Linked DNA regions of Homo sapiens. The protein of the gene in region 1 purifies or fractionates together with the protein of each later gene. This does not show direct contact. Each region holds a gene or a part of one and is shown on either strand. Other genes may lie near its edges.

Region 1 (3,817 bases):
TGGGGAAACTGACCCAAGTCGTACTCTTCACAGGCGGCGAAGCTCCTCTCTGGGGTCCTATGATGATGAGCAAGAGGACCTGACACCTGCCCAGCTCACACGAAGGATTCAGAGCCTTAAAAAGAAGATCCGGAAGTTTGAAGATAGATTCGAAGAAGAGAAGAAGTACAGAGTAAGTGTCCCCTCACACTGTTCTTTTCGCCTCATCCTCTCCCTGGACATGGCAGCATTTCAGCAACTCAAAGAAACGACGAAAGGTTAAGGGAGGCTTCTAGGGAATCTTACAACAAAAAGGCAGTAAACCCTGGATAGTACACCCTGATAAACCCCAGTCATTATGTATCAGCATTTTCCTTGCACAAGTGTATTCTTACAAAAAAAAAAATGAAAGCTTAAGTCTACATTTTATAAATTAATCAGTAAGCAGGAACTGGAGAAATTGTTGAATGAAATCCTTTGTTTGACTAAAATTTAATTCAATATTATCTTCTGAAATCTTGTTAGCACTGAGCTCGTTCTGCTGTCAGCTCTGTACCACAAGAGTGGCAAAAAGGCATTTTTGTGACGGTTGCTGAGCAAAACATCATATACCCCTCTGTTTTCTACACTGTTCGTCTTACAGGTTGAACCCTACAAATAATGGCAAGGGGGTCATGGACCTCACAGAAGTCACTGATCATAAAGATGCATTTTGCCTCTGAGGAATTTTTTGAAAGCATCACAATAACCAAATATAAAGAAGGATAATGGAATTACATTTGTGACATTTGCTCTGATTGGTCGTGTTTAATTTCTTATTCTGATGGGGCTCAACTTTTCCTTCCTATTTAAAACAAAAATGATCATCAAACACTTCTTACTTTCCCTGCTCCAGTTCCAAAGCATTTACTCTAGACTTCCTTTTCTCAGCCTTCCCACAGTGACAAAGCAGCCAATCCGGAGGTTCTGAAATGGACAAATGACCTTGCCAAATTCCGGAGACAACTTAAAGGTGGGTAAAATTCTGGAGCTGTGGCTTCTGTACAACAAGCCAGGTGCAGAATCTCTCACCTCCTCTCCCACTGAGTGCCACTGCTAAGGCATTCCCCGGTCCTTAAAGATGCTTCCCAGCACTCTCAGCTATTCAGAGTGACCACTTCCCCAGGTCTTCACATGGTCTCAGTCACAGGGCAACCCGATCAGCTAAGAGGCGAATTCTGCAGCATTTCTTCATTTCCCTGGATCACTAATAGAAGGATGATGGTTTCAAGTCAGCATCTCTCAACACCTGTTTAATCCAAGTCTCCATTTGCTGTGGTGGTAGAAGCAAACAAGTAGACACAGAGATGAATCTGCAAAGGGTATGGCCTCCATCCCTCAAAGAGATTCCCATCTTTTCAGAGACACAGTCATGTAAACAACTAAATAGAATACAAAGTGAACCTAATTTCAGAATAAGGTGTGTAAGTCATACAGAAAAGGTTGGCCAGTGGCTGGGCATTAGATCACTAAATACCTTTAACCACTGAAGGAGCAAGGATGCCACATTCTGAGAGCATCATACAGGCTGATGTGGCTAAAGCTTTCTCAGCAATTAGTGTTAGGGAAACATTCCATGTAATCAAAGAAAATGTTACCATTCTCTCAGGTTTTACATAATAATTCAGGGATTTCTACTGATACTGTAACTAGATACTCTCTGAAAAAAGAATAAGTTATTGATACTACAGAAAAACAATTTGTGTTGGGCAGACATCAAATCTCATATATCAGGCCGGGCGCAGTGGCTCACGCCTGTAATCCCAGCACTTTGGGAGGCCGAGGCAGGAGGATCATGAGGTCAGGAGATCGAGACCATCCTGGCTAACATGGTGAAACCCCGTCTCTACTAAAAATACCAAAAAAAATTAGCCGGGCGTGGTGGCGGGCACCTGTAGTCCCAGCTACTCAGGAGACTGAGGCAGGAGAATGGCGTGAACCCAGGAGGCGGAGCTTGCAGTGAGCCGAGATCGTGCCACTGCACTCCAACCTGGGCGACAGAGCGAGACTCCATCTCAAAATAAATAAATAAATAAATCTCATATATCTTTACCCCCAAATCTTCTCAACTAGAATCAAAACTAAAGATATCTGAAGAGGACCTAACTCCCAGGATGCGGCAGCGAAGCAACACACTCCCCAAGAGTTTTGGTTCCCAACTTGAGAAAGAAGATGAGAAGAAGCAAGAGCTGGTGGATAAAGCAATAAAGCCCAGTGTTGAAGCCACATTGGAATCTATTCAGAGGAAGCTCCAGGAGAAGCGAGCGGAAAGCAGCCGCCCTGAGGACATTAAGGTGCGATCATTCTGTGAAGTGCTAAGCCCTAAGCCATTGCAGTCAATGTGGTAGAGACACAGGGCATGCCACGTGAATCCCAGTGGGAAGATGATGCCTTGTTAAGCCTTCCAGGCTGTTACGTGTCTAGGGAAGCTGATGAAACAGCTGCAGAGTGCGTTAACTGTGGGTGCTTTGGTTTTTGACTACAGATTGAAAACAAAACTCTATTGTATAGATTACAGAATGAACTTGTTTAGGTTAATAGCTGGTTTTGTGACTCTGAGGTAGAAGGATTAGAGACAAACCTTTGGGACCATGTAACGTATAACCGTCGTCATTGCTTGGGCCATTAAGCTAAGCCCCATGTGCCTCACAGCCCTGCTTACCTCAGTGTTCACCTTACCTTTGCTGCCGTGAGGGAGATCCAGGTGGCTGATGATGATTCTGCTGTGCTGGCCACGTTTCTCCCAAGAGCTCAGGAGTAACCCATTTTTAAATGAACTTTGGATAGAGCTAGGGAGAGCTGTTATATGAGGGTTCTTTTTAGCCTTGCTTTAGTAATTTAAGTAAAGAAGTTGGAATGTTCACACACATTTTCCTCTCTTTCAATTCTCTATCCCTGTGTTTATACAGGATATGACCAAAGACCAGATTGCTAATGAGAAAGTGGCTCTGCAGAAAGCTCTGTTATATTATGAAAGCATTCATGGACGGCCGGTATGTGATGTAGTAAATTTTCTGATTGGGGTCAATTATCTGGCTTTAGAAATGGATTTTCTATGTTCAGTATTTTACAAATGGGGTTCCCTAATGTTTGCTTGCTTTACTTTTAGGATAAAGGAGGTTAGTATATATTTACACCATAACTAAGCTTTCTGAAGGCTTAACCAATAAGAAAGTTCTATCTAGTAGATGTGGAACTTACTTGGGTTCCAATGAAAAATTGGTTTGCAACTAAAATTTAGTCATTAATGTACCGCTTTAAAGGAAGGAATGGTGGAGGGGCCAGGGGTCGGAGGGGCAGAGTATAGGGCATAAAGACCCCTGGAGTTTGGAGACTTCCCTGTCCCTAGGTCTCCCCCAATAAGCTGTCACTGTAGGCTTCCTCATCCATAAAATGAAAGGTGTGAAACTAGAATGATCTGCCTTAGAATTCAATCTCTCTGCAATGCAGTGCAACTAGTGTTTGTAAAGAAGTTCCAGCTGCCGTTCAGAACCAGAAGCGTGAGGAATCCAAAATATGGCTTTGCCTTTTCATAACAACGGGAAGCATTTGAGGTGGCTTGCCGTTCAGCAAGCATTGCTTAAATGTTTGTTGTTAGCTGTGGGGGAAACGGTAGCATGATAGGCTTCTGCTCTCTTCCCTGAAGAACTTTTCATCAGACACCCTTCTTGTCAGTCACTCTTAATAACCTTTTGTTCATAATGTTGTCAGAGACCTAACAAAACAAATTTTTAAAAGCAGGTATAAGGAAGCACGAAGTTTAGGTTCACTGATTATTTTTATATAGCCAAAAAGTATA
Region 2 (3,817 bases), on another chromosome or scaffold:
CTCAGCATCCCACCCATACACACCGCACCACAACCTCAGGATCTCTAAGCTGTAGGCTTCTGGCAGGAGAAGCGTCAGCCCCATGCTGCTCAGAGCCTCCAAGTGCTGCTGTGAGTTGTGTGCAGATGAAGGGTGTTGACAGTAGTTATACAGGTGAAGCTCCTCTTCCCAGAGGCATACATGCTGTGATGGGGACAGGCCAAGTGTCCTGGTGACTGCCTCGAACTCCCAGATAGTTCTGTGGAACGTGCACTTGTGTGCTGGTTTACTACGGAGAGAAAAAGCAAATAGGGTAGGGTATGAACAGTGTTGAATCTGGGTGGAGGGAGGTGGGCACTCATTATGTTAGTCTTGCAGCTTTGTCTGTTTTTGAAAGTTTTAGTAATAAAAATGGGGGGCTGAGTGCAGTGGCTCACGCCTGTAGTCCCAGCACTTTGGGAGGCCAAGGCGGGTGGATCACCTGAGGTCAGAAGCTCGAGAGCAGCCTGGCCAACATGGTGAAACCCCGTCTCTACTAAAAATACAAAAATTAGCCAGGTGCGATGGCGCATGCCTATAGTCCCAGCCACTCAGGAGGCTCAGGTAGGAGAATCGCTTGAACCCAGGAGGCAGAGGTTGTAGTGAGTCGAGATAGCACCACTGCACTCCAGCCTGGGCAACAGAGTGAAACTCCATCTCTTTTTAAAAAACAAAAATGGATGGGCTAGGCGTGGTAGCTCACGCCTGTAATCCCAGCACTTTGGAAGACCAAGGCAGGTGGATCACCTGATCTCAGGAGTTCGAGACCAACCTGACCAACATGGCAAAACCCTGTCTCCACTAAAAATACAAAAAAGCCGGGTGTGGTGGCGTGCGCCTGTAATCCCAGCCCCTCAGGAGGCTGAGGCAGGAGAATCGCTTGAACCCGGGAGGCAGAGGTTGCAGTCAGCCAAGATCACGCCATTGCACTCCAGCCTGGGCAACAAGAGCAAAAATCCATCTCAAAAAAAAAAAAGAAAAGAAAAATGGGGGAACCACCCTCTAGTGGCTTCCCGTGAGTAAGCGCCAGTGCACTCAGGCCCTGTTCCCCTGCCCTCCTACTGTTCATGCCCCCACTGCCCTCTGCAGTGGTCCTCAGCCAGCCCCGTGCTGACAACTCAGGACCTCTCCTCCCTCTGGTCCTTGCTCAGATGTCACCTCCTCCCCATTGAAGCCACCCCACCGCACACGCACCGCCGCTGCCTGTTCTCCTGCCCTGCTGCCCTTTGTATGTGACTTATCGTTTCTAGTAAATTAATAATCATCCATCACCTGTCTCCTCCCCACTAGAATGTAAGCTCCGTGGAGTCAAGGATTTCTGCCTTGCTTTGTTCAGTGCTGAATGCTCAGCAGAACACAGCACGCCCTCTTGACCTGACAGATGGGGGAGGCGGGTGGATAGGTGGAATGGCCTCCTTTGAGTTGTCTCCTCAGCATCTAGCCAGCATCTAGCATAAATGTTTACGGAATAAGTAGAGAAATAGGTGACAATGTTCTTGATGAGTTGATGTACAAGAAGTTGTCTGCCTCTTTGTTGAAGGCTCTTCAGGGTTACAGGTTACAGTCTAGAATATTTTGAATTTGTAGAAATAATCATAATTTTCTGGTCCAAGGTAGTTCATTACCCGACTCACAGGTTTAACAGCAAGGACAGCCACCTGATGTCTCAGGCACAACCTCCAGCAAGCCATCCACTTGTGTCTTTCAGGTGGCAGAGCGAGCTCTCTATTACTGGAATAATGAATACATCATGAGTTTAATCAGTGACAACGCAGCGAAGATTCTGCCCATCATGTTTCCTTCCTTGTACCGCAACTCAAAGACCCATTGGAACAAGTAAGAAAGAACTGGCTGCCATCTTTTTCAGTCATTTTAAAATATGGCACGTTTTACTGCTACTTCAGTAAGAATAAATATCAGAATTTTAAATATCAATTAAAAAACAAGAAGGTCAGTTGCTTTGTGGACTCATAAATTAAGTAGCAGCGTGGGTTGTTTCTGTGGCCGTTGAATTTACCACCTTATACCTTCATTCCTGCCAGTATAGAGGCACATTGGTTTGCAGCCACCTCCCAGTAGCAGCAGTTTCTAGGCCTCTTCCTGAGCGTCCTGCAGAGAAGCTGAAGGTCTCTGCAGAGCCCAGTGGGGCTCAGCCCCGGCGGGGGCACAGTGGCCACTGCATTCTCGGGGTGTCTATTGAGCTCTGCTGACATGCACCCTGGATGAGCCCCTGTGTGAGACCCAAGAACCACCCCACAGTGGTCACTACCTGGAGAAGAAGAGGGAAGCCAGGTGATCTGAACACAGCCCCATAGTCCCAGCAGCCAAAAACATTTCCTCCTACTCCGCTCCTTCATCTTTTGACTTAAAGAGGATGAATAAATCCGTTTACTGAGCAATAGTCTTCTGAGACTTTAAAAGGAAACTGTTGATATGGGTGCCACATTATTTATTTATTTTTCTTTTTTAAAATTTGTATTTTATTTGTTTATTTTTAGACAGGGTCTTGCTATGTCCCCCCGGCTGGAGTGTAGTGTCACGATCATGGCTCACTTCAGCCTCGACCTCCTGGGCTCAAGCAAACCTCCTGCCTCAGGGTCCTGAGTAGCTGGGACTACAGGCACCCACCGCTACGCCTGGCTAATTTTTGTATTTTTTGTAGAGATGGGGTTTTGCCATGTTGCCCAGGCTGGTCTCGAACTCCTGGACTCAAGTATTCCACCTGCCTCAGCCTCCCAAAGTGCTGGGACGACGTGAGCCACTGCGCCCAGGCCATATTATTTATTAATATGGTATCATCTAATATTCCTGCTATTTAAAGAAATACGACTGAGTTTTTCTTTCCCCACCTTCTTTCATCTCTTTCCATTGTATATTGTAATTATAACTCAGAACTTAAAGAAGAGCAGGTTATGCTATCCAGCCCTCCTCCCTTAGTTTATGGGTGAGGAAGGTGAGACTTGGAGGGCATTCGCAGCCCAGTCTGCGGTCCCAAAGCTGGTGAGCGGCACTCTGGCCCGGTGCGGTCTCCTAACTCGCAGTGTCTATTGGGCACCCCTCTGGCTGTGCTGCACAGTCACCCTGCTGCCGGCGGACCAGCCCTCTCCCATGCACCCTCTCTCCTTGTCCGCTCGAGGCTGCAGGTGGCACTGCCTCCTTCCCAGAATTCTGCAGGGCAGCAGCCAGACAGGTGTTAGCCCTGGAGCTCTGAGCCAGACCCCCGAGCGAGCGTCCAGCCAGTCCACTCGCGTCAAGTCTTCTGAGGGTTGCCGCCCAGAAATTCAACAGAGAAGGGCAGGCAGATCAGAGTGAGGATGACTTTGGTTCACATTCCTGCCTTCCTCCTGAGCAGCTGTCTGAACCCGGGGAAGTTAGCTCTCACCAGGTCTTTCTTAGCCACAGTTTCTCTTTGGAAAAACTGAGAAAGTAAAGTGCTTTGCCTTGCAACAATCTTCACTTGGTTGTGAGGATTAAGATAAAGTTAATATGCGTAAAGTACCTGGCTTATGATAGGCACCAAGTAAGCATTTGCTGTCACTTAGTGGTTGTAGGGCCAGCAGCCATGCTGATAGCAGTGGAGGCAGCAGCCAAGACCCTCATGGCAATAGCGTGGTGGTTGTAGTTGTTAATACAGCACATCCACCCTCAACAACCTGTTCTTTGTAGCATTGATTTATTTTATTTATTTATTTATTTTTGAGATGGAGTCTTGCTCTGTCACCCAGACTGGAGTGCAGTGGCACCATCCTGGCTCACTGCAGCCTCCACCTCCCAGGTTCAAGTGATTCTCCCACCTCAG

The links.
Region 2: the proteins of FAM13A (region 1) and PPP2R5C purify together in Homo sapiens (affinity purification with mass spectrometry; one large-scale study listed by BioGRID and IntAct). This does not show direct contact.

What each region holds. Positions count from the first base shown.
Region 1 is NC_000004.12:88,746,126-88,749,942, reverse strand, and holds part of FAM13A (protein FAM13A), read left to right. Parts: intron 1-33; coding exon 34-172; intron 173-909; coding exon 910-991; intron 992-2,091; coding exon 2,092-2,312; intron 2,313-2,927; coding exon 2,928-3,011; intron 3,012-3,817.
Region 2 is NC_000014.9:101,904,676-101,908,492, forward strand, and holds part of PPP2R5C (serine/threonine-protein phosphatase 2A 56 kDa regulatory subunit gamma isoform), read left to right. Parts: intron 1-1,726; coding exon 1,727-1,854; intron 1,855-3,817.